3 separate regions of the Homo sapiens genome follow, and all the other regions are linked to region 3. The links come from fine-mapping of genetic effects on gene expression. A gene starts in region 3. Each other region holds a variant in brackets. All regions are shown on one strand. Distances are between the middles of the regions. Region 1 overlaps PXN (paxillin). Region 2 holds the start of LOC124903034 (a long non-coding RNA gene). Region 3 holds the start of PXN (paxillin).

What was found.
Region 1: its variant is fine-mapped to the expression of PXN in left ventricle (GTEx, PIP 0.98).
Region 2: its variant is fine-mapped to the expression of PXN in whole blood (TOPMed, PIP above 0.99).

What each region holds. Positions count from the first base shown.
Region 1 is chr12:120,224,974-120,235,181 of GRCh38, forward strand. The region is part of intron 1 of PXN (paxillin); the gene reads right to left. It overlaps LOC124903034 (a long non-coding RNA gene), which reads left to right. Exons shown (of 3, transcript XR_007063487.1): 3 at 1-448. Among named protein-coding and RNA genes, the nearest start is that of PXN-AS1, 29 kb to the left of the region's middle. RefSeq lists enhancers at 1,381-1,430, 1,447-2,127, 3,321-3,410, 4,479-5,038, 5,039-5,598 and 5 more and silencers at 273-567, 3,521-3,630, 4,873-5,167. The variant G/A (reference allele first, on the strand shown) is at 5,758.
Region 2 is chr12:120,213,511-120,223,718 of GRCh38, forward strand. PXN (paxillin) reads right to left here. Exons shown (of 15, transcript NM_001385981.1): 3 at 10,208; 4 at 9,353-9,489; 5 at 9,039-9,240; 6 at 8,113-8,248; 7 at 5,697-6,581; 8 at 3,331-3,606; 9 at 2,763-3,071; 10 at 2,050-2,151; 11 at 1,593-1,763; 12 at 1,315-1,488; 13 at 626-707; 14 at 332-480. LOC124903034 (a long non-coding RNA gene) reads left to right here and starts at 6,581. Exons shown (of 3, transcript XR_007063487.1): 1 at 6,581-7,415; 2 at 7,805-10,208. RefSeq lists an enhancer at 2,494-3,220. The variant G/A (reference allele first, on the strand shown) is at 4,133.
Region 3 is chr12:120,261,240-120,271,447 of GRCh38, forward strand. PXN (paxillin) reads right to left here and starts at 4,491. Exons shown (of 15, transcript NM_001385981.1): 1 at 4,378-4,491. The coding sequence starts at 4,390. RefSeq lists silencers at 4,209-4,358, 4,519-4,798.

The sequences.
Region 1 (10,208 bases), 36 kb before region 3:
GTGCAGCGGTCCCCACCCCCTCAGTGAGCAGGGGGCAAGACTGCTCCATTGGCTGTTTCTGCGGAAGTCTGGCAAGCAGCCCGGCCCCAGAGGCTCCAGGCCCCCACTGTTCTGCTTTTAACAGCGGCAAGGGAGCCAAATCAGCCCTCTAGTGTAAGCTTCCATTACCCTGGCACCTGGCAGCCAACAGGGGGGCACTAGGTCTCCCCAGTCTCCAGAAAAGAAGGGTATAGAAGGGCAGGAGTAGGACCTGCTGACCCCCACTTCCTCCATCCCCTCCTGGGACCCTCAACAGCCCCACGGCTCAGACAGCCTGGCCCTGGATGCCACACCCTCATTCCTGCCCCGTTCACAACTTGCTTGCTCTCAGCTCCCCGGTAACCTGCTGGGTCCAGGGAGCTGACAGCTTGATCCCTAGCCCTCAGGATAATAAACATCTAAAAAGCAATGGCTGCGTTTATTGCCACTTATCAGTAGCAGGCAGACTGCTAGGCATTCTAGCAGCATGTACGAGGTCTCCGTTAATCCCCCTAATACCCCCTGTAGCTGGAAATGATTCTCCCCGAAGCGATGAGGAAAGCCGGGCTTGGAGAGGCAGAGGTCAGAGGTGTTTGCTCCAAATAACAAAGCCAGTGAGTGGCACAATTGTCTGACTCCTCAGAAGCCCCAAACCCCAAAAACCTGGCCTGTAAGAGGCCACTATGACTACCAGATGATGCCATACTTAAAGGGTTCAACTTCCTGAATGTTGGAGGCCCAAGCTGTGAGGCCTGCCAGTGTGATCCTTCCTTGTGGCCTTGCTCCCAGTCCCCCAACCTGTGTTCAGAGGAGGGAATAGAGAAGCAAGGCCCTCACCCAGGGCCTCGGTCTATGGGGCCACACCTTGTCCCAGCTGCCTGTCCTGATCTCCTACCCTCAAGGCTGGCCACACCTACCCCATGCTCCTGCCCAGATGGACAGAGGGGATGTCTGTTCCAAGGCCCAGGACCCCGGGTCTGGTCGCCTGACCTCCAAGGAAGTTCAGGTCCTACAGCCCGCCCCGCCCTCCGGGTCCCATGGAGGAGGCCTGGCTTCCTGTCTCTAGCAAACCGGAACTAGAGGGAGTTGGTAGGTATCTAGGTAACGGCAGAAAAGGAACCAGTGTCCAGGCCAATCCCCACGGCCTCTCCAGGGCCACACCTGCTGTCTTGGCTTCACGCAGTGTCCTCATTTCCTCTGGGCCCAATCAGCAATGGGTGGATCCCTCTTTCTCCACCATGGGCAGGGCCAGCTAAGAAACCCCATAGGACTCCCCAGAGCAGGCAACGAATGAGTGCAACCCCAGTAGGGGGCAGGAGCAGCTGCCATCCTTGAAGGCCCACTGGGGCCAGGAGCTTCACCTTTGTTACCTGCCATCCTCACAACGCCACCAGCACAGATGGTATAACTGCGGTTCAGAGGCAGAGTCACATCCCACACTGCCAAGGCTGGATGAAGTGACAATGCTGGACTCTGATCTCAGGTCTCTTGGACTCCAAACACCCAACAGAAGACAAATGGTCAGGCTTCCTTGTCAAACATTTTGAATCAGGGACTCCACCAAACACCCGCTCCACCACAATGTGATTCTAAGCCTGGGCTTTTGGTTTATGGATTGGATTCAGGTTTACAATGTCAACAGGCTCTTGGGAGCACAGATCCCTAGGCTGGTGAAGTATTGGTGAGAGGATGCAGTCCTGGGGCACAGAGACACAAGATCACTCATTCTGAGGTCGAGCCAGACCTGAGTTCAAGTGCCAGCTCCCCTCTCTACCATCCATGCCACAGGGCAAATCGCTTAGCTTCTCAGGGCCTGTTGTCTCAGTAAGCTCTTGAATAACTCTGACCTCAAAGTACTGGTGTGAGGTTTATAAGGGCTAGCAGGTACACTGGAAGCTGCAGACATCAGTTGCAAATATCAGGCTCTCCAGACCCAAGTCACTCTGCAGGAGGAAGCTCCATAGCACATTGGAAGCTACAAACATCAGATCTGATTTGCTCTGTAAAATCCAGAATAAGGTCTTCCTCCAAGGAGAGCAGTGTAGGTAGGATGCAAAGTACTAACTTCTTCTAAGTCTCCTAAGTCTTTTCTGGGTAGAATATGAGCAAACCATGAAAAGGGCAACCTTGAAAAGAAAAGAAAAGTAATAAAGTAACATTCAAATTGTAGCATGTCCCAGCCTGGGCAAAACAGTGAGAGCCTGTCTCTACAAAAAATTTAAAAATTAGCTGGGTGTGGTGGCGCATGCCTATAGTCCCAGCTATTCAGGAGGCTGAGGTGGGAGGATCACTTGAGAACAGGAGTTGGAGATCGGCTTGGGCAACACAGTGAAACCCCATCTCTACAAAAAATTTAAAAATTAGCTGGGTGTGGTGATATGCGCCTGTAGTCCCAATTACTCAGGAGGCTGAGGCAGGAGGATTGCTTGAGCCCAGGAGGTCAAGACTACAGTGAGCTACAATTGCACCACTGCACTCTAGCCGGGGTGACAGAGCAAGACCCTGTCTTAAAAACAAACGAACAAATCATAGAGTGCAGATGTCAGGGAGAAGGCACATCATTATTCAGTTTTCTCCAAAGTTTTGTCTATTTGAGGGACAGAGAAAAACCCCAGCAAGTCCATCCACCAGCCACAGGGTCTCTGGTATGGCTTCCTCCTCTCTCTCCACCCTTCATTCTCACCTAGTGATTTGGACAGGCAAGGACTAGGCAAGAGGGGTAGGGGTTGGTGCCTCCAAACCCCCCACAAACTCCTCAAGAAAGAAAACCAGAAATACAGGAGGCAAGCCAACAGTAGACTCCTAGCTTTACTTTGATTTCCAATGGGTGCAAATACCTGAGACTTCCCCATAGGCTGCAAAATGGTTAAGGGTCAGAGTCCCCTTGCAAGCTCAGCAAACGTCCCCCCTGGCTTGAGCAAACAGAGCTGGCAGACACTGCACACAGGAAGGAGTCCACTTGAAGGCAGAGCCCCATCCCAGCGGGGTCCCCCAGTGTCCGGCTCCAGCCTTTCCCTCTGCTCTAAATATTCCTGCTCCTCATACCCCAAAGAAGGTGTCAGGCTATCCACTCTTCAGAGAAAATGGTACCCACTGAAACCATTCAAGACCAGGAATACACCCTCCCTTCCCACATGCTGGGAGGACAGATTCCAGACACGCTGCTCGGAAGTAGTCGGGAGACCTCATTCAAGCTAAGAAAGGCCTCAAATTTCCTTGGCATTACTCTACTAAGTTTCCAGGTCCAGGCCTGGGGCCCTCCAGACCCAAGTCACCCTGAAGGAGGAAGCTCTCTCTCTGGGGCTTCCCAACCACTTTCTGGAGGAAACCCACCCTGAATTCTGCAGGTTTTCTGTCTCTCTGGGCCAGCGGAAGTATGCAACATGAGGAGGTAGGCCAGGCTGTCTCGAGGCTGAGGGCAGGCTAGGTGCAAAGTCCCCAGCGAGCCATGGGCAAAGGCCACGGAGCTATGTCCTGGCTCCGCCCTGGTGAGGAAGGGGTGCAGACTGTCTGCTGCTCCCCACCAGAGGGCACCATTGGCCCGTCAGCTTCTTGCCACTGGGTAACCTCGTGCAATCTTGCAATTTTCTAGCCGGGGAAGACTGGGGAGCCCCTGGCCATGGGCGCAGTGGGGAAGTTTCTATCCTTAGAGAACAAGGCTGAGCTGGAGGAACACAGCAAGCTAGTGGGAGGAACACAGGTAGCCTGGTATCACTTGAAGGCACAACCCAAGGGTGACATGCAGGGCTCTGGAGAACCAGAGGGGTGCACGCCCTCGCTTCCAGGGCCCTGTGCAAATGCAGCACCGTGTGCGCCCCTATCTGCACCCCATGGCTGCACCTGGTCGGAGCAACAGCATGGAACAGCTGCAGCTTTGGGTCGGGAGGCCGCCCTGGGGCAGGTGGCTGGGCAGAAACAGTGCACTACGGCCAGGCTGAGAGGAAGAAGCCCTTCCCTGGGCCTCAGCAACTGACTGAGCGTAATCCTTACAACCGGTGGGAGCCGCTGGAGGGTTAAGGTACAGACACCCTCAGCCCACTGCTCCGAGGAGGAGGGGACCGGTTCGCCTGCATTCCAGGGCAAGTGCTGCAGCTGCATCCCTCACATTCCTGTACCCACCTAGGGGCTCCGGGTGGAAGGAAACCTGGGTCCCCTTGTACCTACAATGGGGGGATGTCCCCCAGACTGTGGCTCTGGGGACCCCGGTTGATCCACTGACGCATGGCACTCAATATCAGATTAAAGAGAATCAATTAAAACCTTCCGCCCCCACCCCCGACTGCAGCACAGAAACAAGCCAGGCTGCTTCCTCCTACCTAAGCCCCTGCCACTTCTTAGTGTGTGATAAAGACTATCAAGACCAGAGGCCTGGAGCTGGACAGGTGCCAAGAGAGAGGAGATAAAAGTCCATCTCTCTGAGGGGGTGGGAGGACCCAGAGCGATTCCATTCTCTCCTCCCAGGCTCTGAGGACTTTCAGTGTTACAACTTGTACGGTGAATCCTCAGTCACCTGGGCTCTGCTCAATGGCTGAACTGCTCGGATAGGCTGCTTAACTGCTTTTGTGCCTCAGTTTCCTTGTCTGCCCAATAGGAATTCCACCATTTTACTCACAGGATTGGGACTACATGAGAAAAAGATATAAAGTGCTGACTTAGCACAGTGCCTGGAATACAGCACACAGGAAATGGGAGTTGCTAAATAGATTACAAGCTTCTTCCCAGGGAGGTGTTAAGCCCTAGGAGGGGAAAGAAATCACCTCCCCGTCCTATCCAATCCCTGAGGGCAAAGGGTGCTGCCCTCTAGTCCCAGATCAGCAGGAAGCAGGTAAATGTGGGGCATGGAGCCAGCTTTTCCATCCCTTCTTGGAGTTTACAGGCTGCCCTGCCACACCAGCCCCAGCGCCAGGGCCCCGTGGTCCCTGCCCACCTTTGCCATTCTGGACTCCTCCACCAGCAGCCCCAGGCAGAACTAGAAGAGGTATAGTCCTGTGGCCCTCAGGCAGCGCCCCACCTTAGCACGCCTTGCATTCTCGAGGCCTGGCCCAGGAGAGGCCCACGTAAGAACAAGGTATTTTCCAGCCCCTTCACCCACCTTCTTCTGCAGGCCAATTTCACTCAGCTTTCATTGCCCCAGGCAGGGAGCGGCCAGTGCAGCTTCCTTAGGAGCTGACAAGCCAAAGGAAGGAGCAGCAAGCACCGCCCTGAAAGCTCCAGCACCAGCAGCAACGGGCTGCCATAGCACAGGGGCCTTCCCCGCAGCCCTGGGCCAGCTGTCCATCCCTGCCATCTGATAGGAAACCCAGACTCCCAGAGAAACAAGTCCCTGTCCTAGGGGGTCTGGGGATGCCCAGCCTCATGGCCTGTCTATCCTGTTGGGTCCAGAACTCTGGACAAGGGAGGTTCCCAACCCCCTGATGACCACCTGGGCAGCCTTGGTAGCTCTGAGTGTCAGAGAAGCTGCGGCCTCCTTACAGTTGCCCACGCTCAGGGATATAAGCAGTGAGCAGGGCTTGGCCCTTCCTAAGGAAGGAGCTATGTAAACAGCAGGACCAGCTCAGGGATGGTCTCATCTCAGCCCCTTTGGTGAGACTCTTCCAGATTAGGAAGGAAAACAGAACGGGAAGGCGGGTCTCCCCCCTCCCCCTGGCTCCAAGTTCCCCTCCCCTCCCCCAGCCCAGAGCACATGAGCAGTTAGAGCAGAGGTAATCTAATCCGCAGCGGGGTGCTTTCACTCGGTGA[G/A]TAAGTCCCCAGGAATGGTGAGCTGGGTATATTTATCCTGATAACCGTCTGTCCTCAGTAAGGGCCAATCCACAATTAGGCCAGATCCACTCTGCCCCACCCACCCCCAGCCCAGGGACCTAGGGCCTGGACACTGACTAGGAACTCAGTCTCCTTGAGGGGCCTTCCCTGCCAATTTGGGTTCTTGTCAACTGTCTCCTCTCCAAGAATTAAGCTCCAGAGAGCAGGGGCCTTGTCGGTCTTGTTCGATGCCATATCCCCAGCAGCTAGAATGAATGGCTGAATGACAGAGGGGCTGTGAAGAGGAGGAGGATGGGGAAGCAGCAGTGAGCAGAGCAAACAGCCAGTGCGGAGGAGGGGAGCCAGGATGCCCTGATCCCAGGCCCAGCGGATGAGTGGGGGCCCCTCAGCGGATCCTCTAACCTCTCTGGATGTCTTCTCTATCAAGAAAATGGGCAGAACCCGATTTGTCCCCATTCCTAGTAGCATGCTCTGAGGAGATAATACAATTATGGGTGAGATTTATATAGCACCTTTGAGCTCTTCCGAGTTAGTCTAAATCCAAGATTCTGCTATTATCTGAATCCCAGACAGGAACTGCTCTGCTAAGAGGATGGATGAGAAACGATCAATACCATAGTGTCATTTAAATATTTAATAGCCATGCCTGGAGGTTACAAAGACTCAGCCACCAATTCTCCTCCGCTGACTCATGCCTCACTCAACAGGAACTGCATTTTACCCTTACAGCCCTGAAGGAAGTGTGGGCTGGGGGGTGACACACAGGAAGCCAGGGGAGAAGGCCCAGGAGTCTTCCAGTCAGCCGCCAGGGGAGGAGGGGGTGGTCATTTGGATGAAGTGGTTCTTCCCCAGGCTTCCTACAGGCCTAGCTTAGGAGGGTGGCTTCCTGTATGCTGAGGAGCTCTTCCTTGCAGAGGGTGACACAATATGAGTGTGCAGACAGACTGGCTTTATTGGCTGCCTGGCTTGTGCCCAAGGTCACAGGGCACAGGTAACCAGAGACCTGAGAAAATAATGGCTGCAAGGCAACTCCAGCAGTCACCCTGAGCTCCAGGCAGAAGACCAACTGTGCCAGGCCCATCTGCACCAGGCACACACAAGGCCCACCCATCAGGCTCCTGGCTGCAGCCACTTCCCCATCAAATTGGGCTCCAGGAGCTTAAGCAACAGCAGGTGAGACAAGGCTGCCCAGGTTGACTCTGAGCACTTCTATGCATCTGCCTTAGGCTACAGACACAGGAGTTCAGGCCAGGCTGGCCAAACACCAGAGTCTTTCTCTTCTTTTTTTCTTTTTTTGAGACAAGTCTTGTTCTGCCACTCAGGCTAGAGGCCTGATCACAGCTCATTGCAGCCTAGAATTCTTGGGCTCAAGGGATCTTCCTGCCTCAGCCTCCCGAGTAGCTAGGACTAAAAGCACATGCCACCACACTAGGCTTTTAAAAACTTTTTTGTAGAGACAGGGTCTCACTATGTTGCCCAAGCTGGTCTTGAACTCCTGGCCTCAAGCCATCTTCCTGCCTGGGCCTTCCCAAAGTGCTGAGATTACAGACAGGAGCCACCATGCCCATCCCCAGAGTCTCTTTCATATTGTAAATAACTCATCTCTCCTGTCCAGAATCAGTGGGCCCTCCCTCCTCCAGAGGTCCCAGAACATTGTGGACACATTTCATTGGTCAGATGTCATCCACCTCTTTAGGTCGCCCAGAGATGCTAGACCTTTTCAGGTCAAGTCCAGGGCCCCATTCCAGGCCCAACTCACAGCTCCTTCAATGGGTAAAACCCAGATTCACATACAAAAAAGACAGCCTCAAACCCAGGAGACTCATGGGCTGGAAAGGTTCTCAGCTGTTCCAAATCGACCCCAGCCCATTCCTGCAATCTGGGCTCTTCCAGGCAAGTTGATCTGTTGCAGAGCAGGGCGGCTCCTTGGGCCTCTCACCCCTGCTAATCACCAACAGAGGTTAGGAGGGGCTCAAAGTGAGTCATCGTCCCACAGAGACCCGAACAAAAAGTTCAAAAGTTTGCCTGTTCCTGAGATGAGCTGCAGTTTTTTTGCGATTTTTGTGGATTTCATAGCATTAGTTACCCACTCTTTGCTAATCAGGTTCTCACTAACCAGCCAGCACCTTCCCCTTTTTTCAGGCAGCAAGGTCATTTCCCGAAGTCAGCTCTCGCTTGCCTGACTTCCCCAGTTCTCTTTTCTAAGTCCCTTTAATAGCTCCCACATTTAGCTGGTCACTAAGTCACATCAATTCTTCCTTCGCGGGGCCTCTCCCTGTCATCACTTGCCTCCCTTTCCTTTCATCACCACAGCCAACCACTTGGACTAGCATTCGAATCCATGCTCAGTGCCTACCTGAACTTGACTGCAGCCCCCTGCCCTGGGTTCTCCCAATCTAACGCTTCCTGCACACACCATCGGCCCGAACTTCTTGGCACCCAGCCTTTTTGGGGCATGCCTCACACTTCACTCTTGCTTCTCCCCCTAGACTGCAGGTCCTCTGTGGGCAAGAACATCCTCCTGCTCCTGAATCCCCACAGCATGGATACCCTCATAGGCCTCCTTTTTTTTTGAAATGGAGTCTTGCTCTGTCAACCAGGCTGGAGTGCAGTGGCATGATCTCAGCTCACTGCAGCCTCCACCTCCCGGGTTCAAATGATCCTCCTGCCTCAGTCTCCCAAGTAGCTGGAACTACAGGTACACACCACACCTGGCTAATTTTTGTATTTTCTTAGTAGAGTCGAAGTTTCACATTGTTGGACAGGCTTGTCTCGAACTCCTGACTTCAAGTGATCCACCCACCTCGGCATTCCAAAGTGCTGGGATTACAAGCATAAGCCACTGTGCCCGGCCCTCACAGGCCTCTTAGAGGGGCTTGAATGAATGTGTGCAGAGCAAGGGGTGGAGTTATAATACTCACCCACTGTTGCCCTCTCTGCCTATAAAACAAGGTCAGAAACCCTGGGGATGGCATTCTGTTCTTGACCCTCTCAGAATATGGCCCCAAACTAACCTTCACTGCCTCCTTGGTCCCCCTCACTGCAACCCATGTCTCCAGCCAAACTGGACTCCCCGCTTCCCTTTTTGCCAGCGTGCCTTTCTTCACAATACTGAATGTGTCCCACCACTACCTCTATCATCATTCACCTGGTTTGAGCCTCTCGCACAAGGATATCCATACCCCCAGGGGACAGATGGAAGCCAGGGGTACAGGAAGCCACCTCAGGATAAACCCAGAACACTCTGAGGATCAAATGTACTCAGGGGCAAGAAATGTAAATCATTGTCTTAAAACAAACAAGGCTACATTATGGAGTCAAATGCAAAATGCAAGTGAAATCGTAAGATAAAAAGAGAGGCTTCAAGGCCTGCATGGTGGCTTATGCTTGTAATCCCAGCACTTTGGGAGGCCGAGACAGGGAGATTGCTTGAGGCCAGGAGTTCGAAACCATGTTGGCCTGGCCAACATGGTGAAACCTCATCTCTACTCTACTAAAAATACAAAATTTAGTTGAGCATGGTGGTGCATGCCTGTAATCCCAGCCTCTTGGGAGGCTGAGGCAGGAGAATGGCTTAAACCCAGGAGGCAGAAGTTGCAGTGAACAGAGATTGCGCCACTGCACTCCAGCCTGGGCGACAGAGTAAGACTCTGTCTCAAAAAAACAAAACAAAAAAAACAGATAAGATTTTGCTCTTGGGGACTTTGGCAAACAATTTTAAGCAGCACCACAAAGCCCCCACTGTCCACACATAAAACCACCCCTGCCCATATCACAGATTTGGCTGGTCTGCTGTCGTTGGGAGCTAGGATGGTCACACAGTTCTTTGGACACCCTCTGGGCATCCCACCTGCATGGCAGTGTGGTAGAGTGGAAGGAATGGGCCATCTAACAGTGAGGAGGATGGGTTCAAATCCGCCACTCACTAGCCTGGGTGACCAGTGACTAGATAATTCTGGGCTTTAGTTTACTCAGGCACCTCATAGCGCACAGTGAGTAATGGATGAAAAAGAATGTGAGAGCCATCCTGGTGGCTGGGATAAAATAAACGTAAGCCTCCCACTCTGACACACAGGAGACACTCAGTCAATAGATCCACATCACTGATTTTCATCTCCCTTAAGGCCAGCAGGGGGAGGAGTCGGAGCCAGGGACTGCAGCCAGGGATCCTGGGAGCTGTGACAGGTTGTCACTAACTCAGCCTTCTTGCTGAGCAAACCACTGACCTCACCCTTTGTGTCTCGGGTTCATTCCAAGTCCTCCTTGGAGAACATCAGCTGAGCCCAGGCGCCTCCAACTCACTGCCTAGCAAGGACAGAGGCAAGCGAGGGAAGCTGCAGGGCCCCAACGCCTCCACCCCCACCCCATCCCTACTGCCTGCCGGGAAGTCACAGCTGTCTGAGAGGCCTGTGGCTTTGAACCCAGAATCG
Region 2 (10,208 bases), 48 kb before region 3:
GAAACCACTGCCCATTTCTGTTGAGTCTGCTAAATACTTGCATTATCTCATTTAGTTCTCACACACTCTCCTCCCAAATAGGAATGGCCCAGGGCCGCTGCACAGGGCTGGACTGGGGGACATGTCTACCTTGCTCCTGGTTTGTCCCAGCCTCAGTACAAACCCTGGCCCAGGACCTACTGGACTGGAGGAAGGAGATCCCCTGCCTGCTCCCCCAATTAATAACCCCAAATGAGGCCTCTGAGTTGGATCCAGACAGCACAATGAGGAAGACCCCTCTCTCCCCACTGCCTGCTCCTCGCCCCTCCAGATGTGGTCAGGGGCTCCTTACCCGGCACACAAAGCACTCAGGATGCCACAGCGTGTTGAGGGCTGAGATATAGTTCTCCAGGATGGCCCGGGCGCAGCCGCCACACTTGGGTGCGAACATGTCGAAGTAGTCCTTGCGACAGTAGGCCTTGCCGTCCTTCTCGTGGAACCCTGGGGAGCGGGGGTTTTGGAGGCACAGTTCATTCCGGCTTCCAGAAGTGGAGCCACTCTGACTCCAACCTCAGCAGCGTCTCCCACCCCCACCTCCCCGGCCCTCCTAAGAGGCGGTGGGTCAGTCCGCCGGTCCAGCCCGTACCTTCGGGACCAAAGAAGGCTCCACACTGTGCACAGAAGAAGTGTTCAGGGTGCCACGTCCGGTCAAGGGCTGTCACCACTTTCTGTGAAAGCAAAATGTGGGATCAAGGCTGAGCTCTGGGCAGATCTCACAACTGAGACGCCCAGCAAGGCCGTCCTTCCACCCGCAGCTCATAGCCATAGACAGAGCAAAACACTCCCAAGATGGGGGTCTCTCCTAATTGTGCTGTGAATGCCTCTAAGAATTCAGAGTTACTCAGGATGGGACAAGCCAGACACATACCCTCTCCTCTACTCCTCACCCCAAGTAGAGGGCACAAGTTCTATGACTCCCATTTTATAAGTGAAGAAACATAGGCTCAGAGAGGCCAGGCATTTCCTAAGTTCACAGAGAGGGAGAGTGAGGCCGCTGGCATCCAACTCCATTTATCTCCTCAGGGCTCCTGAGTCCTGGGAGTCTCCACAGAAAGGAATCGAGATGGGAGGTGAAGGGAGGTGGGGCTGCCCGATGCACATCGGGACAGGCTGTGGTTCAGGTGTGGCTGTGAATCCGGCCCCACTGTTCCCTAGCCCTGTGAGCCTCGGGCATGTGACCTCTCTGAGCCTCCCACGGCACCCCCTGCATCCTCAGAGGGCTGCGGTGAAGCTGGAATGAGCGGAAGCGGGCGCGGTGCCGGATGAGGAACTCACATCCAGGATGGGGCCGTTGCAGTAGTAGCAGCGCGGGGAGAAGAGGTTGTGGTAGTCCTTTTCACAGTAGGGCTGTCCATCCCGCTCGAAGAAGTTCCGGGATCCGATCTCCTCCTGGCAGTGGGTGCAGACGAAGTGCTCGGGGTGCCACGTCTTCCCCATGGCGGTCACAACCTGAGGAGGAGATGGAATGCGGTCCAGGGCCAAGGCCAGCCCCGGAGCACCCCCACCCCTGCAGGAGTCCACTGGCCACACCCCTGCCCACTCCCCCTCATCACCTGCCCGGCGATGGGCTTCTTGCAGGCCCCGCAGACTCCTTTGGCGACTGTGGCGACCCCCAGCTTGTTCAGGTCAGACTGCAGGCTCCCCAGCATGCTGTCCAGCTGGCTCCCGGGCTTCGGGGGCCCCCCAGGGGGTGAGCTGCTCCCTGTCTTCCCCTGGGCCATGAACTGTGGACACGGAGGGGGCTGGTCAGGACTCCTGAGGCTCGGGGTACGGTGTCTGGCAGCACAGGGATGGGGGTACTTTTCTCCCTCCTGGACAGATGAGCTGATGGAGACAAGAAGTACAACCTCCTCCAGGGGCCAGGAGCCCTAAAGTGGGAGTGACGTCAGCAGGACTCCTGGTGGTCGGAGGGGCCCACCAGGGTCGGAAAGGCTGAGGGCACCCAGCAGGCATGGCCAAGCCCAGGGAGAGCACGACACGCAGGACACCCAGCCCAGCCTTGGCACTGACCCCTCCCTCGTCCTGCCCTCCGGGGCTGCTCCGCCCGCCGTCCCGAGGCCAGCCGGCCGCCCAGCACCGCTCCCCATCCGCTCTTTGCTCCAGGCCCTGGATCTTAGATAGGGGAAGAGATGAGGGTAAGAAATCTTTTTTAAAAATTAAGAAAGAATACAAGACCTTGTCACTGGACTAAAAGGGAATCTAGGATGAGATCTGAGGGTTTCTCCCCCACCGGCAGGACCAAAATTGGGGGAAAAAATCTGGAGAAAAAGAGCCCTGAGAGAGAGGCCTAGGGAGAAAGGAAGAAGGACAGGGAGGGGAGTCGACCAAAGGCAGAGGAAATGGCAAGGGGAGGTGGCCGGGCTCAGTGATGAGGCCTCACCGGGCGCTGGGCCTGGGGGCTGGAAGGGAGGAGACAGGTTTCTGGTCTCCCTTCTGGAGTGGCTTCTTTCCTCGATGGGAGCCCGGGGCAGTACTGAGGACCAGTCGAGGAAGGAGCAGACATGGGTGGACCCACAGAAAAGCAAGAGGGCAGCGGACCTTCTGAGTGGGGGAAGACCGGGGTCAAGGTTTACGGCAGGACTGTGGTTACTGTGCTGGGGCTTGTAGATGGAGGGATGGAGGGTATCTGTGTATGTGTGTGTGCACGTGTGTGTGTGCAGAGTGGGGGATGGCTCAGGCATTAGGACAGGGGACAGAAAGGGAGGGGCTCCTTTAAGGCCTGCCTGCATCGGGGGGAAGAGCGGGTCCTCATCAGTCTGGCAGCCCACGGACCTCATGGTGTGGGGTGCAGGAATGGGAAGGGCAGGGCCCTGCACCCCCTCATCATGGGGCTCTTCCCCTGCACTCTGGACCCCAGAAGAACCACAGGTATAAGCTGAGGGCCCCAGGGGGGAGGAGGCGAGCAGGCTGGGCAGGGGAGAAGAGCTGCTGGCCGCGGCGTCTGTGCGATGCTGGAGCAAAGGGACAGAAGGAGAAGCCAGGACAGAGATGGTTCTTCTCAGGGGAATGGGAGAGCCAGGAGGGAAGACAACCTGGGGAGAAGAAAGGAGGGAGAGCGATGAGGAAGAAATCGCCAGCTCAGCCCACAGGGGTGGCGGGACCTCCCCAGGCTCCCCCTGGGCCTTCCCACTCTGCACCAAGAGTGGGGCCAGTCTTCCAAAGTCACAGGAGGCAAGAAACCCCCACCCTCTCCCCAGATCTCCCCTCCGGCCAGCACTGGGGCCAGGGAAGAACCCGGACCCCAGGTGCTTGGCTCTGGCCCAGCCCCAGCCATGGGCATCTCCTCGCCACCTTCTCTACGAGCTGCCCCCCGGCCCGCTTCCCACGTGGCTGCACAGTGATGATGACGCCCTCGGTCAGCCAGTCCTGGGCAGAGGGCCCCGCCGCCTCCGCCGGCTCCTCTGCCTCAGGCTGGATGCCCAGCCGCCCCTGCAGCTCCGCGATGAGCTGTTCCTGGGATGGGGTCCTGCTCAAGGTGGCAGGGTCCAGCCGGCGGCGAGGGGAGGGCTCCCGGGACATGGGGTGTGCGTGGCCAGACTCCCAGCTCCTCCTGATCACAGATCGGATCTAGGGGGAGGGGGAGGGGAGGCTGTCACCGTCCCACTCCCAGCTTGCACAACGCTGCTCAGGCCACACTCAGATGCCTCAGGAGAGGGAGCACAAAAGAAAACCACCAAAGAACCAAGCGGAGGTGGGTGGAGGCACGGGGAGGGGGCAGATTGGACCGGTGGAGGTGGGTAGAGGCAAGGGGAGGGGGCAGATCGGACTGGCTCCAGAAGCACAGGCTGCGAGCGAGACCTCTGACCCAGCATTCACCTCTAAGTTGGCCACTGACCTTGGGCAAGACACTTAATTGCCATGGGCCTCAGCTTCCCCTTCCTTAAAATGGAACCACAAGATTTTCTTGGCTTACCGCACAGGGTTTGCACAAGAATTATTCCAGAGGATGTAAGTGCATGCCCTTGACAAGGCATACGGCTTTTTCTTTTTTCTTTTTTTTAATTTATAATAGAAAAAGTGTTTCCTTCCAGGAACTTTTTTTTGGGGGGGGACAGAGTCTCGCTCTGTCGCCCAGGCTGGAATGCAGTGGCGC[G/A]ATCTGGTCTCACTGCAACCTCCGCCTCCTGGGTTCAAGAGATTCTCCTGCCTCAGCCTCCTGAGTAGCTGGGATTAAAGGCATGCACCACCACGCCTGGCTAATTTTTGTTGTTGTTGTTTTTTGTTTTTTTTTTTAGTAGAGATGGGGTTTCATCATGTTGGTTCGGCTGGTCTCAAACTCCTGACCTCGTGATCTGCCTGCCTCGGCCTCCCAAAGTGCTGGGAATACAGGTGTGAGCCACCGTGCTCAGCTAGCCAGGAACTTTTTTAACTAGTTTTTTTTTTCTTATTTATATTATTATGCTAATATTATATTATGCTATTATACTTGTTGGTAGTGTTTTGGGGGTTTTTGGTTGTTTCGTTTTGTTTTCCAAAGAGGCATAAAGCTTGGGGGATTTTTTTTTTTTTTTTTTTTTGAGACAGTGTCTTGATCTGTTGCTCAGGCTGAATGCAGTGGTGCGATCACAACTCACTGCAGCCTCAAACTCCTGGGCTAAAGCCATCCTCCTGCTTTAGCCTCCCCAGCAGCTGGGACTATAGGCATGTGCAACCACGCCCAGCTAATCTTTAATTTTTTGTAGAGACAGGGTTTCACTGTGTTGCCTAGGCTGGTCTCAAACTCCTGGGCTCAAGCGATCCTCTTGCCTCAGCCTCCCAAAGTGCTAGGATTACAGGTATAAGCTACTGTGCCAGGGTGAGGCATAAAGTTTTTTGTTGTTGTTGTTGTTTTGTTTTTGTTTTTTGAGACCAAGTTTCACTCTTGTTGCCCAGGCTGGAGTGCAATGGTATGATCTTGGCTCACCGCAACCTCTGCGTCCTGGGTTCAAGTGATTCTCCTGCCTCAGCCTCCTGAGTAGCTGGGATTACAGGCATGCGCCACCATGCCCAGCTAATCTTTTTGTATCTTTAGTAGAGATGGGGTTTCTCCATGTTGGTCAGGCTGGCCTCGAACTCCCAACCTCAGGTGATCCGCCCGCCTCGGCCTCCCAAAGTGCTGGGATTACAGGCGTGAGCCACCACACCTGGCCCGGCATAAAGTTTTAATTTAAGCAAAAAGCAAGTAATAAAAGTACTGTCAGCCACGGCCTATTGAGGGACCACATGCTGTGTTCTAAACACTTTCCAGGAATTATCTCATTTAGGTCTCCGGACAATCTTGATGGAAATTCTCCCCACTTTACAGATGAGAAAACTGAGGCTGAGGGAGGGGGTTGCCCAAGGTCACAGAGGTAGCAAGTGTTAGACATGTGGTTTGTATCTAGGTCTATCTGGTTCCAAAGTCCATGCTGCTAACCATTTCACCACATCAGAATGTCAAGGACAGCTCATCTGAAAGGAAAAAGCCTCAACAAGGCAAGAGGTGGGTTGACGCTATGAGAAATGCTGGGTCCACAGAGCCCACTGCCAAGTGCTGACTGTCAGGTCCGGCCACAGTGTCTCAGCATTTTCTGCCCAAGCAGACATGCGCAGAGTGGGAGGCTGCATGCAGTTAGCGAGGAGCGGCCCACACTCAGACCCGCCAATGGCCATGCCCAGCAGCCATGCGAGCTGGTGCCTGCCTGGCCAGAGGTGGAAATCCTCTCCGTGGTGCTGGGTGTGCCCATGGCCATGGCACATGGAAGCTCTGGCTGTTCCTTCCCGTCCTGGGTGGCAGCTTCCGTGGTGCCCTCTGGGCTCCTTGGGGTTTCAGGTCCCTGGGTTGGCCTGGCCACACTTCCCCTCTCGGTCATCTTTGCACCTAGCTGCTCCGTGGTAACTGAGGCAGGGGAGCTGCTTCCCAGCCTCCCTGGCTCTGGCCTTGGCCTCTCCTGCTGTAGGCCATGTTCCTCCGTGAGAGTCCAGGTATCTGGGAAGATGGCCTGCCGGTCCACTGCCACTACAGCTGGCTCTGTTACTTCTTGGAAGCTTCGAGCAGCTCCAGAGGGGGGCATTCTCTCAGGCCCGAATACCTCCGAAGCCCATGGCTGCTCCCATGTGGCAGCCAAGGCCTCCTCTGGGCACGAAGGGCTGGCTGGTGGCCCCTGGGGCTCCCCAGGCTCTTGGAGAGCTGTGCTCCCAGCACAGGGTACAGTGTGGCAGCGGGGAGCCCCAGAGAGCTCACTTGTGATGGTCGGCAGGTGCCTCCAATCTCGACCCTGACTCTCTGTGCCCACTGCCCACAGAGAACCCTCCACAGAGGGAGACCTTGAGTTGAAGGTGTCAGGCATCACCCCAAGACCAGCCAAATCAAGCCAGCTGGGGGCTACAGGAGGTAGAAGGCCTCGTCCACTCTGCTCAGTACAAGGGAACTCCGGAGTGTGGCCCTGGCCTCGAGGGGAGGGTATAGTGGTGGGTGGCAGAAATACAGATGGCATGGGAGGAGGAGAAGGAGGAAGGGAGCAGTATGAGGACGGAGCAGAGCTGGACAGCCCCGGGGCACTCAGAGCCACAGTGGAGGAGCTGGTCTGGAGAAGAGAGAAATGCAGAGGGGAGAGGAGAGAGAGAGATGAGGGGAGTGAGGACGGCTGCACCTTGCAGGCGGTGGGCTCGGCCTTAGGGCTGACCAAGGTGGCTGCAAAGCTGACGCACAGGACTGACCCTTGAAGGAGACCCAGACCCCAAAAAAGCTTCCCTGGGCTTTGCGTGCTTAGCCCTCACCAAACCCAAGCAAGAGAAAGCAGCCACCAAGCCGTGCCTGTGGAGCCACCCAGGGAGGGTATGAGAAAGAAAAGACCACGGTAAGGTGGACAAATGGGGAGCCAGGTGGCTACGGAAGACAGCCCCAGGCACAAATGGAGGGAGAGCCAGCCCCAGGGGCTGCTGAACCCGCCTCGGACACTGGCCCAACTCGGCCATGTCCCTCCGGACAATCCCAGCTTTCCTACACCCCAAGTCCTCTACGTCTTCCACATCCTTGCTCCAGGGATCTGACTAAAACCACTGCTGCTTCTCCTGGCATCAGGACACAGGCTGTCTGAGAAAACGGCAGCCTTAAAAGCACCGGGGCACAGCTCCCTCAGGCCAGGCCCTGAATCCAACTTACTTGCTTCTGACCATGGCTGCTCAGAACCACTGGCCTGGAGCTGGAACTATAGCACGCAAGGGTCACAGGGCCAGGCTCAACCCTCCACCCCAGCCACACTCCTGTCTCCCACCATGAAACCTCAGCTGAAGGGAGGCTAGGAGACACCATCAGGGCCAAGGGTGCAGGGACCGTTCACTCCCCTCTCATATTCCCTAGGTCATGCCCCAAAGGTCTCCAGCTGACCCACGTGGAAGTATGAAGTCAGCAGCTGCTGGTGAGTTCTGTCAATATCAATCCCCAAGGAAACACTGAATCCTCTAAATTAAACATCTCAGGCCTGGCAGGACTGGGGAGGCCCAGCAGGGGAGGGGAAGGGCAGGTACCTCGTGCAAGCCTGGCCCCATGGTTTCCCACAGACACGCTCGTGGGAACTCAGAGGCCCTGGAGGGCGAGAGGGAAGGATGGGAGAAGAGTAGCAAGGGAGGCTTGTGGATTCAGGATCAGAGGCAGAAAGAAAGAGGATGTGTTGAGGACAGCTAGCGTGGGAGATGGGGCTCCAGGGCAAATGACCTCCCAGGCACAGGCTCCCAAGTCCCACATGGCCCAGCAGAGAATGCCCTCCCCCACCCAGAGCAGCCATCAACACAAGGTTCTTTGTCCCAGCGTCCCAGCCTCCTGATCCCCTCGACCTGAGAGGCTGGGAGCACCCAGGGAGGAAGGAATGTCCCAGCTGAGCACTTCTCCAGCTTGTCTGCCTTCACTGGCTACTGCAATCCTCAGGCAGGCTGACCCGGCCCTCCCTCCCCATCTCCTGGCATCACAGCAAGGCCAGGGCATGACAGTGTCCCTGGCTCAGGGGCAAGGCACCCAAACACTGAGATGCCAAGATCCAGCTACCCACACTGAGGTAAGGGAGGAGAAGGATGAGGGAGGGGCGGCAGGGCAGGGAAGATGGAGGGTTCACAGGGCACCTTGAAATCCGACAGCGAAGCCATCAGCTCGTCCAGCTCCCTGGTGGCAGAGGAGGCCGAGATGCGTGTCTGCTGTTGGGTGGAGGTGACGCGCTGCGGGCTGCTCATCTCGCCCTGGTTCACAGTGATGGCAGGGCTGCAGGGTGGGCACAGCATCAGTGGGGAGCCCACAGTCAGCCCCACACTTCCCGGGGATCAGATCGACCTCTCACCTCGGACACTGGGGTCTCACCATCCCCAACCCCAGGGAGGTCCACCAGCTCCCTGTCTCTCCTGGGGACCCATCACTGGGTCAGAAGAAAGGGCAGTTCAATGGCACCAGGAAGTGCCAGGAAGACTCCTCTAGCCCCCAGCCCAAGTGAAAGCTGGCCTGCGAAACAAGCCCAAGCGCCCTGTGTTTCCTCCACAACACTGGACATGGAGGTGAGGCTACTGCAGTAACACGACGGCACTGGTAAGAGCTCGCGTGTTGGGCACTCACCATGTGTGCCACGCACTACACACCAGAAACCATTCCAAGCGCTTTACATGGATTACTGGTTCTCACCCTTACTGAGGTAGGTGGTCTTATCCCAGTGATCCCATAAGTTCTTGTCCCATTTTACAGATGGGAAAACTAAGGCTTGAGAGCTGACAGTAACTGTCAGAGCCAAGATGTGAACCCCACTGTGTGGCCCCAAAGCCTGTGCTAAGAGCTGCTAAGCTCCAGGCGCCCTCAGCCTGCACAACGTCTGTCCTTTCTGACTGGCAGTGACTGGCTGAAGGCAGGGATGGTGTCCATGTGACTCACCACTATCCCCCCAGTGCCTGGCAAATGGCAGACACGGGAGGGAGTGGGTGATACCAGGGCTAAGGGGACAGACACTGGACCCGGGGCAGGCTGGGCCAGCCCTTCCCCACCTGGGGAGGGCCCAGTGGGTACTCACACGGGGCTGGGCACGGAGCTCTCCAGTTCATCCAAGAGACTCTCCACACTGGGCCGCACGTCCTCCAGGCCCCGGCCCCCATTCCGCTTAGGCTTCTCTTTCGTCAGGGGCCCAGCTTTGCCTCCCAAGGGGCTGTTAGTCTCTGGGACACCATAGAGGGGGCTCAGGGCCCCAGGAAGCGGGGGGCTTGAGTTGGCCTCATCTTGCAGAGAGGAGAGAAAAAGGCTGCTCAGCCCTTGAGCCCTCCTGGGATCTAGAGGTCAGCAGATGGGCCCTGGGCCCTGGTAGACCCTGCCCCAGGGACCCGGTCCTACCTGCAGGGAAGCCTGGCGGGTTATGCTGTACAGCGTTCAGTTCCAGCAGCAGGCGGTCGAGTTCAGAAAGGTTGCTGCCCAGGGACGTGCTCATTACGGTGGGTGAAGGCTCAGCTGATTTCTGCTTGTTGGGGAAGCTTTGAGAGGCAAAGGAAAGAAGATAGTGAGAGATGCTTTCTGGCCTTGTACTGGCTTGGCAGTTCCCAGATTCCCAAGGAGAACAAGGCAGAGGAGATGCGAAGTCTTCCCCCGCAAGAGGACAGAGGGTAGGGAAGGGATGTGGTAAGAAGAGGGGAGGAGGCCGGGCACAGTGGCTCACGCCTGTAATCCCAGCACTTTGGGAGGCTGAGGCGGGCAGATCATGAGGTCAGGAGATTGAGACCATCCTGGCTAACACGGTGAAACCCCGTCTCTACTAAAAATTAGCCAGGCGTGGTGGTGGGTGCCTGTAGTCCCAGCTACTTGGGAGGCTGAGGCAGGAGAATGGCGTGAACCCAGGAGGCGGAGCTTGCAGTGAGCCGAGATCGCGCGACTGCACTCCAGCCTGGGCGACAGAGTGACAGAGCGAGACCCCGTCTCAAAAAAAAAGAAAAAAAGAAGAGGGGAGGAATGAAGTCTTGCTTCAGTTCCTCAGCTACACGGAGATGCTGTGATAGCCCAGAATGTCCACTGCATGGAGATGGCACTGATGAGGTAGACGGGCCCACCGACAGGCCTTCTGCAGCTTAAACCAGAATAACCCCACAAGGCCCAGTTGCTATGCCTGCTCCCGGGCCTCCGCTGCCTCCCACCCTGGCCAGGTCCCTGAGATTTCTAAGCAGGAGGGAAGGTGCCCTGGGCAGACTGGGGCAGTACC
Region 3 (10,208 bases):
GAGTGCAGTGATGCGATCTCGGCTTACTGCAATCTCTGCCTCCCGGGTTCAAGCGATTCTCCTGCCTCAGCCTCCTGAGTAGCTGAGACTACAGGCACGCGCCACCACGCCCAGCTAATTTTTGTATTTTTAGTAGAGATTGGGTTTCACCACATTGGCCAGGCTGGTCTTGAACTCCTGACCTCAAAAGATGCACCCACTTCAGCCTCCCAAAGTGCTGGGATTACAGGTGTGAGCCACCATGCCCGGCAGATTTTGTTATTATTAATGAAGGCACTGAGACTAGGATGATCCCCGGAAAGGCTGCAATGAGGCTGGAAGTTTATTCAACATCTCTGGAGCGAGGTAAAGACGCAAGAGAAGCTTCAGAGTCAGATACTCCAAGCAGGATGACTAAATAGGAGAGGAGGGCTGCTCAGTGGCCCACCAATAACTCTGGCCTTCCATCAGCCTCTCCAGCCAAGGGTACACCCAGTCTCTTCAATGCATGACCATCACTAGGGAAGCTGGAAAAAAGGAATACTGAGATATTCCCTCAAAAGACCTTGAACCTATAGTGACAGGGCTTTGGGTTCCAGTAGGCTGAGCATTTCTCCATCAAGCTATGTCTGCCCAGGCAGCAGACAGCTTCACATATCAGAAAGTGTACCCGCTGAAGAATCAAACCCACCAAGGTTTGAATCCCAGCTCTGCCCCTTACTAGCACAAGCCCAGGAGAAGGTCTGGCACTGATGCAGAGCCCACCAGGAGGGCACTATCGCTGCATGGGTAAATGCCGCCTCTGCCACACGCCCAGCAGCTGGGTGCCCTGACTCTGCCCTAACACACAGAGGGACCACAGACAGGAAAGCCCAAAGTCCAGACTTTCCATGGAAACAGGGAGGCTCCATAGCTCCCAATGCCCCAGGCAACTCCTCTGCCCCCCTAGCACTACCCCCAAGGACAATGAGGCACTGTTTTCCAAAGGGTCAAGACTGCTGAGAAGCTGAAAGAAGACATGTCCAGATTCCAGCAGCAACTGGGCACTGCCAACAGCTGGCTGTTCCCCCTGCTAGAGGATGGGAAGGCAAAGCTACCCAGTCTTGCACTGGACACACCCTTTGCCATTTCCTGGGATGGGCCCCTAGGGCAGAGATTGTTAAAGGTAACTATCAATTACTCAGCAGGCCCCAAGGCTCATCCCCCTGGTTAGTCACCAGCACCTACCACCTTATGATGATTAAGATAACCGGATCTGGAATTGGATGAGCCTGGGTTCAAATCCCAGCACTACCACTAAACTTCCCTGAGCTCAGGTTTCCACATGTATAAAGTGGAGCGAAAACACCTCCCTTTCTGAAAGGTTGTGATACAGCTCGTAAAGTGCTGAGTACAGTGCCTGTCTCCCATGAAGCGCACATGATCATGATTAGACCACAGTTGTGGTCAAAGCCCCCACCAAGTACACTGAGAACATGAACAGAGGAAGAGCAAGCAATCGGGTTAGAAAACACAGTCAGAGTGCATCTCAGTGTTGTGGGAACTCTGTCCAGGAAACTCCGGCCAGAACTTGAACAGAGCGAACTCTGGGCCAAACCAGCATCTAAACAGTAATAAGAAAAGCCACCAAGCAGCCACCCCAAAGAACAAAGTGGAGAGAACACACAGGGAAGGGCAGAACACGCTGTGTTGATATTTTTCTGCTCAGAGAGCTATAAATTTGTAACTTATTAAGCAGCACATGGTGAGTCTGTCATTGGCAACTATGGGAAGGAGAAGAGTTCCCCATTTTTTATTAGACCAAAAAACAAAGTCACAGAGGAGGTGATGCACCCTCTGGCCTTGCTACCGGACACACCATAAACTCTCCCCTGTGTTAGGGACCAGGAGGCACACGGCTGAGAGCACGCTCAGGAGAAAAATAAAAACAAGAGGTCTGGGCTTTGTGTCCACCCTAAGGAAAACAGCTGAGCCACCCTAAGGAAAACAGCTGATGGCAGTGTGCTGAGCCGCCATCCAGACAGCTGACGGGGCCCCAGTGCAAAGGCAAATTCCTCTCCCCTCCTGCACACCCCATTCCTCCCACCCCAGGCTCCGGTCAGTCAGGCGTGGCTTGCCCCTTGGGAGCTCAGGCCAAGGAAGTCGGGCAGCCCGGATGTAAGCAACTGGGAGTCTATGGTAGAAAGCAGTAGAAGTTACAGGTGATCGCCATCACCCAGTGGCAACCCCTCCTTCAAGTGCCCTTGCCTCCTCCCCAGGAAAAAAAGTCTTCTCGGTATACAAGAGCCACAGATCTGGGAGCTAGGAATTGGGCTTCCAGTTATGGTTTTGTCATTTCATGGCTGTGCAGCCTTGGGCAAGAGAATCAGCCTCTCTTCGTCTCGGCTTTCTCAATCTGTAAAAAGGCAGGTGGTCATGACAGCATTGGCTTTAAGGTGGAATCTGATAAAAGGGTTGTTGTGAGGATATCACAAATCGAGGTAGAGGGAAGTACTCCACAAACAGCAATTTAAATCCCTACAATCCCCTCTCCCGTATACAGTACTCTCTTTCCTTTCAGAACTCAGTTTCCTGGCCCTAAATGGAAGACTGTCAGAAGACAGGAATTCCAGATTTCGATGGCGAGCTCTACAAAGACTTTCTCAGTCCTTGAAACAGCACGGGGACTGCCGAGAAGCAACAGAACTGCACCAGCACTTTAGAAACTGTAACTTTGCTCCCAGTTCCCACTGGGAAAGCACTCAGACTCTTAGATCCTGGTTCAAAGAACATCCCCCAGCCTCCTTCCAGCTGAGCTATTTTTATGTGAAAAAAAAAAATACCTGCCTGGAAGCCATGCCAACCTTGAGCACACTGGAAAAATGGGTGCCAAGCCTGACCCAAAGGCAGAACCACGCTTGGCAGCCATCTCACTCTGCAAAACAGGCAGGACCCTACACCAACCCCAGCTCCAGGATCTCAGGGGCACCCTGATCCCAAAAGGAAGCTGGAGGGAAGCAGTCAAGTCCAGCACCTACAAATAGCCAGTCTTAACTTAGTGCCCGGCGCTGCTTGGTAGAGGTCCATCAGTCCTGTCTGCTGAATCTACTCCTCAGAGCCTGGGACAGAGGAAGCATCAGTGGTCACACAAGCCACCCACAGTCCAGAGAGGAAAGACAAGGCTCCTGCAGAGAAGAAACGTTGCCCCCCTCCTCACCTCCCAAGCTCAGGGCCCTCCAGCTACAGGCGTGAAGGGGAGGGAGAGACAGCGAATCCTCCCACTCCTGCGTTCACGCCACCCAAGGCATTCCTAGAACCCTGGCACCAACCCCCTTGGGTTTAGAGTCGGCTTCCAGGAGATACTTTCTTTCCCCTAACACCAGATCAAGACTGGACTGAAAAGAGTAGCCTTGGGGCTCCAATAACAGGAAAACAGTAAAACTCTGTTCTGGGCATCCTGTCCTCTTTCACCTGCGTGGCTTCCAGCAGGGCCTGACGCAGAGAGGGTGGAGGGGACTCTGCTAGCCAGGACACGTTCAGGGATGGTCATACCTTGGGGCCCACCTTCCACCTCATTCCCCTGGCATTTCACCAGAATCTAGGGGTGGGGAGAGAATCAGGACTCCCAAATTACCGTTCTAGACTTAGATACCATGGTAGACGGACTGGTCTGTGAATTGAGGGGCTGGTCCACAGAGCGGGGAGGTCAGTGAGAGAAAATGAGTGATGGGTCCTTGAAACGGGGTGACCAGATTTGAAGTGGGGGGTCAGAAGAGCAGGCAGACTGGGAAACTTGTCTTTGAAATGGGGGTGTGGTCATCACACGCTCATCTCTAGCTTTTGCATCTGACTTGTGAAATGAAAGGGGTGGGCTCCGAGGGGTTATCCCTGAAGGGGGGTGCTAGTCTGTGAAGTGGGGGGCGGCCCTGGAGGGACGGGGAGCAGGTCGAGGAAATGAGGGAGCAGCCCATGAGATCGGGCAGCTGCTCCCCGAGTTGGGCGGTCGATCTGTGAGGTGGGGGTGGGGAGAGGTCTGCGAGGTGAGGGTCCCGTAGCTGACGAGGTGGTCTGCCGCAGGAAGTCTCGTCCCTGCAGCGGACGGGGTGGGTCCCTGAGGGGCGGGCTGGTCCCTGGGGCCCTTCTGGGAGATGGTGATGGGTCCCCGAGGTCGGGGGTCCAGAGGTGAAGCCGTCCCAGACGGGGGGTCGCTGCTGTGCGGTCGGTGCCGGGGCCGGCCTGGCCCGAGACTAAGGCCCGGTTAGGGATCCCAGCCCCGCGGAGCCCCGGCCGGCAGGGACAGGAGCTGAGGCCGGGGCCGCCGAGGGTGGGATCCCGCGGCCCCTGCCGCTCGCTGGCGCCCTCCTGGCCCCAAGCTGCGCGCCTCTCGCCTCCTCCTCCCTCGGCCTCCCGCTCACTCACCGAGGTCGTCCATGGCCGGACCACGGGCGCCGGCTCAGGGTCGCGCTAGCTGCCCGTCCCGGGGCCGCTCGTCTATGCCCCGCAACTTTTCCGCCGCGAGCCTCGGCCCGGAACGGAACGCGCCGCCGCCGCGCGCGCCCGCGCCCGCGCCCGCCGCGCGCCCCGCCCCCGGCCGCCCCCTGTGCACGCGCGCCCCGCCCCCGGACACCCCCGCGAGCTTGCTGGCCCCGCCCCCTGCGCACGCTGGTCCCGCCCCCGCCAAGAGCCCGGGCAGTGGGCGTCGCTGGGCGGGGCGGTGGCGCCCCCTCGCGGCTAAGCGGGCAGGTGGGCGGCTCCCAGGCCTCCAGCCACTCCCATCCATCTTTCTGTCCCTCTCAAAGTCACTTGCCTGACCCTGCGGATGACAAATCCGTCCACAGTCAGCCATGTGTCTGTGCATTCGTCAGCCACTGGGTCATCACATGCCTGTCCACTGGACAGTCAGTTTTGCCCACCTGTCCGTCTGTCACCTGTAGGTCACCACCCAGGAGGACCATAAATCAGTACCAGGCAAGGCCCGGAGCCCGTGGCTGACCTTTCCTGGGGTCGTCCTCTGGATCAATGGCAGTGCAGCTCGCAGTTCACCCTTTCTGGCCCAAACCCAATACCTGTGTGGTTCCATCTCTCTTAATATTACTTCCACACAGCCACCCTCCCTAGACACTTTTCCAAAACTGCATGGGGCAGAGGGGTCCCCAGATTAGACATTAAAGGGAAAACTACAGGAAAGTCACACCCAGTGCTCCCACACACTCGGAAATTGGGTAATAATAACAACTACCATTTATTGAGTGTCTGAATAGACAGACACTATATAGCTATTCTCTAAATTAATCCTCCTAGAGGTACTTCCCTACCCGTTGGGATGGGTGATGGCAGTTTGTGGATTTTATATAAAACTGCTCTGCAAGTACAGCTTCGAGTTCCCCTTGTCCCTCAAGAATCCAGGCCTTCTGGGTCAGATCAGGTCCTCCAGAAAGCAGATGAGATGCTGAGATAAAGCTAGGGGTAATGCCCGTGACAGAGAAGGGGAAATAAGCAGGGTTGGGCAAGGAGACTCAGATCTGACAAACAGGTCAACCCATCAGGGAATTCCAGGACAAAAAAAATGAGAAGTCTCCTTGGGCAGAAGTATCCGGGTTCCAATGCTCCCACCATGTTCAGTCATTTTATAAAGGCAGATCCAAGCAGCTTCTGTGGCTGCCACATTCTCCTATAATAAATTCAAGACCAAAGACTGTTCCTCAAACACTCTATTGCGTGGTTTTCCAGCATCTTGCACATACCTCTATTTTGTTTTAGTTTTTGTGTTTTTGTTTTTGTTTGAGATGGAGTCCCAATCTGTCGCCCAGGTTGGAGTGCAGTGGTGCAATCTCAGCTCACTGCAACCTCCGCCTCCCAGGTTCAAGTGATTCTCCTGCCTCCTGCTGGGATTACAGGCGCATACCACCATGCCTGGCTAATTTTTGTATTTTTAGTAGAGATGGGGTTTCACCATGTTGGCCAGGCTGGTCTTGAACTCCTGATCTCAGGTGATCTCCTGCCTCCTGGTGGGATTACAGGCGTGTACTACCATGCCTGGCTAATTTTTGTATTTTTAGTAGAGACAGGGTTTCACCATGTTGGCCAGGCTGGTCTTGAACTCCTGACTTCAGGTGATCCGCCCCCCTCAGCCTCCCAAAGTGCTGGGATTACAGGTGTGAGCCACCACGCCCAGCCTGTTTTTGTGTTTTTAAGACACAGTCTTGCTTTGTTGCGTAGGCTGGGATGATGAATAAGACTAACATGATGTCTACCTTCTTGAATCTAAAGGTGCACGCAAAAGAGCAAAGTGGTTAGCATGAAGGATGAGTAGCCTCGCCCCACTCCCAGCTGTGTGGAACAGCATGTGCAAAGGTCTGTAGACAAGACATTTAATACTGACCACAAGCCTAGGAGATGAGCATTGTTAGCCCCTTTTACAGCTGGAAGAGTTGAGAGTCAGAGGTTGAATTACTCCAGGTCATACAGCTAATAAGTAAGGAAACTGAGATTTGAACCTGGGGAGGCTTATGCCAAGGCCTGGTTATGAAACGGCTAAGTGAAACTGCTAACAACTTAGACCAACCCCAGGGCATACGCTTGTCCACTTCTCCAAAGGTCTAAAACCTTTCTTTTTCAAAGCTGTGTGGTCTGGAAATGCGAGGCACCCATTGAATGGGCAAGTTTCCCATTGCTATGCAGAGTTCTAAAGAGAACTGAAGCTTCAGAGTTGAGTGCTGGTGCACTCGAACACTCAGGTCCCTGCCAGGGATTTCCTCATGTAAATCATTCCTAAACCCCCATTTCCTCCCTGGCTTCCTTCTTCCCTTGGACTCTCACCCCACAGCAATTAAACTTGGTGTCTAGTTCAGGCTGCTACAACAAAATACTGTAGACCGAGTGACTTATAAACAACAGAAATTATTTTTTCACAGTTTTGGAGGCTGAAAGTTCAAGATCAGGGTGCCAGCACAGTCAGGTTCTGGTGAGGGCCCTCTTCTGGGTTGCAGACTGTTGACTTTTTGTACCCTCACACGGCTCAAAGAGGGTCCCTTTAATAAAGGCACTAACTAATCTCTTTCATGAGGGCCCTGCCCTCATGACCTAATCACCTGTCAGGCCTCACCTCCTAACACTATCGAATTGAGATTAGATTTCAACATATGAATTTTCAAGGATATGAACATTCAGTCCCTTGCATTTGATAAAATCAATCAGGTTTTTTCATTCTTCCTAAAGATTAAACGACATTGACAGAGCAGATGGACAACCCTGCTGACTTCTTGCTAGTGGTTCATCTTGGGCAATTTACTCTGTGCCTCAGTTTCTTCCCCTATAGAAAGGTTAATAGTAGCTACCTCTCAGAGTCCTCATAGGACTAAATAAGAAACGACACACCTAGTACTTAGAATGGTCCTTGTCACCACAAAATAACACTCTTCACTCAGCAATAGAAACAGAACTCGACCAGGCTCACACCTGTAATCCCAGCACTTTGGAAGGCCAAGGCGGGCGGATCACTTGAGGTCAGGAGTTCGAGACCAGCCTGGCCGACATGGCGAAACACCATCTCTACTAAAAATATATAAATTAGCTGGGCATAGTGGTGTGCACCGGTAATTCCAGCTGCTCAGGAGGCTGAGGCAGGAGAATCACCTGAACCCAGGAGACGGAGGTTGCAGTGAGTCGAGACTGTGCCACTGCACTCCTGCCTGCGCGACAGAGTGAGACTCTGTCAAAAAAAAAAACAAAGAAAGAAAGAAGGAAGGAAGGAAGAAAGGAAGGAAGGAAGGATGGAAGGAAGGAAGGAAGGAAAGAAAGAGAGAGAAAAGAAACAGAATGCAAGCCGGATATGCAATCAAAACTTTTCTTTTTTTTCTTTCTTTTTTTTGAGACAGAGTCTCACTCTGTCGCCCAGGGTGGAGTGCAGCGGCATGATCTCAGCTCACTGCAACCTCTGCCTCCCGGGTTCAAGTGATTCTCCTGCCTCAGCCTCCTGAGTAGCTAGGATTACAGGCACCCGCTATCACACCCGACTAATTTTTGTTTTTGTTTTTTTTTTTTTTTTTGAGACGGAGTCTTGCTCTGTCGCCCAGGCTGGAGTGCGGTGGCGCGATCTCGGCTCACTGCACGCTCTGCCTCCCAGGTTCATGCCATTCTCCTGCCTCAGCCTCCCAAGTAGCTGGGACTACAGGCGCCCGCCACCACGCCCAGCTAATTTTTTCTATTTTTAGTAGAGACGGGGTTTCACCGTGTTAGCTAGGATGGTCTCGATCTCCTGACCTCGTGATCCGCCCATCTCGGCCTCTCAAAGTGCTGGGATTACAGGCGTGAGCCACCGCGCCTGGCCAATTTTTGCATTTCTTTAAGTAGAGATGGGGTTTCACCATGTGGGCCAGGCTGGTCTTGAACTCCTGACCTCAGGTGATCCCACCTGCCTCACCTCCCAAAGTGCTGGGATTGCATGTGTGAGCCGCCGCGCCCGGCCCAATCAAAACTTTTTTAGCCAAGTGCAATGGCATATGCCTGTAGTCCCACCTACATGGGATACTGAGGCAGGAGGATTGCTTGAGTTTAGGAGTTTGAGTCCAAACTGGGAAACTAGCAAGACCTCCTCTCTAAAAAATATCTTTAAAAAAATAAAAGAAACAGGCCAGGCACGGTGGCTCATGCCTGTAATCCCAGCACTTTGGGAGGCCAAGATGGGTGGATTACCTCAGGTCAAGAGTTTGAGACCAGCCTGACCAACATGGTGAAACCCCATCTCTACTAAATATACAAAATTAGCTAGGTGTGGTGGCACATGCCTGTAATCCCAGCTACTTGGGAGGCTGAGTCAGGAGAATCGCTTGAACCCGGGAGGCGGAAGTTGCAGTGGGCCAAGATCCAGCCTGGCTTACAAGAGCAGAACTCCATCTCAAAAAATAAAAAATAAAAAAATATATGGCCGGGCACGGCGGCTCATGCCTGTAATCCCAGCACTTTAGGAGGCCGAGGTGAGCAAACAACCTGAGGTCAGGAGTTCAAGACCAGCCTGGCTAACAGCCTGGTCTACTAAAAACACAAAAATTAGCCGGGCATGGTGGTGGGCACCTATAATCTCAGCTACTCCAGAGGCTGAGGCAGGAGAATCGCTTGAACCTGGGAGGTGGAGTTTGCAGTGAGCCAAGATCACACCACTGCACTCCAGCCTGGGGGACAGAGTGAGACTCCATCTCAAAATAAATAAATAAAATAGATAAAATTAATGTTAATAATATATTTTATTTAATTCAATATATCCTCAGTGTTGGCTGGGCATGGTGGCTCACACCTGTAATCCCAGCACTTTGGGAGGCCAAGGCGGGAGGATCACAAGGTCAGGAGATCAAGACCATCCTGGCCATGGTGAAACCCCATCTCTACTAAAAATACAAAAATTAGCTGGTGGCACGTGCCTGTAATCCCAGCTACTCGGGAGGCTGAGGCAGGAGACTCACTTGAACCAGGGAGTCAGAGGTTGCAGTGAGCTGAGATCCCACCACTGCACTCTAGCCTGGCGACAGAGCAAGATTCTGTCTCAAAAAAAAAAAAAAAAATCCTAAATGTTATCATTTCAACTTGTAATCAATATAACAAAATATCAGTGAGATATCTTACTCTTTTTTGTATGAAGTCTTCAAGATCCAATGTGTATTTTACACTTACAGCACATCTCAATCCAAATAGCCACATTTCTTTTCTTTTCTTTTTTTTTTTTTTGAGACAGGGTCTCACTCTGTTGTCCATGCCGGAGTAGAGTGGTGAGACTGAGGCTCACTGCAGCCTCAATCTCCCAGGCTTAAGTGATCCTCCCATCTCTGTCTCCTGGGTAACTGGGACTACAGGCACATGTCACCGCACCTGGCTAATATTTTTTATTTTTAGTAGAGATGAGATTTTGCCATGTTGCCCAGGCTGGTCTTGAACTCCTGGGCTCAAGCCATCTGCCCACCTCTACCTCCCAAAGTGTTGGGATTACAGTCATGAGCCACTGCATCCGGCCCAGCTAGCCACATTTTAAGTACTCAGTAGTCACATGTGGCTAGCGGCTACTGCATTGAACGGTACAGTTTTAAATGTCAGCTGTCATCATTATTTTGGTTTTTGTTTTTTTTTTTGAGATGGAGTCTCGCTCTGTCACCCAGGCTGTAGTGCAATGGCACAATCTCGGCCCACTGCAACCTCTGCCTCCAGGGTTCAAGCAATTCTCCTGCCTCAGCCTCCCGAGTAGCTGGGATTACTGGCGCGCG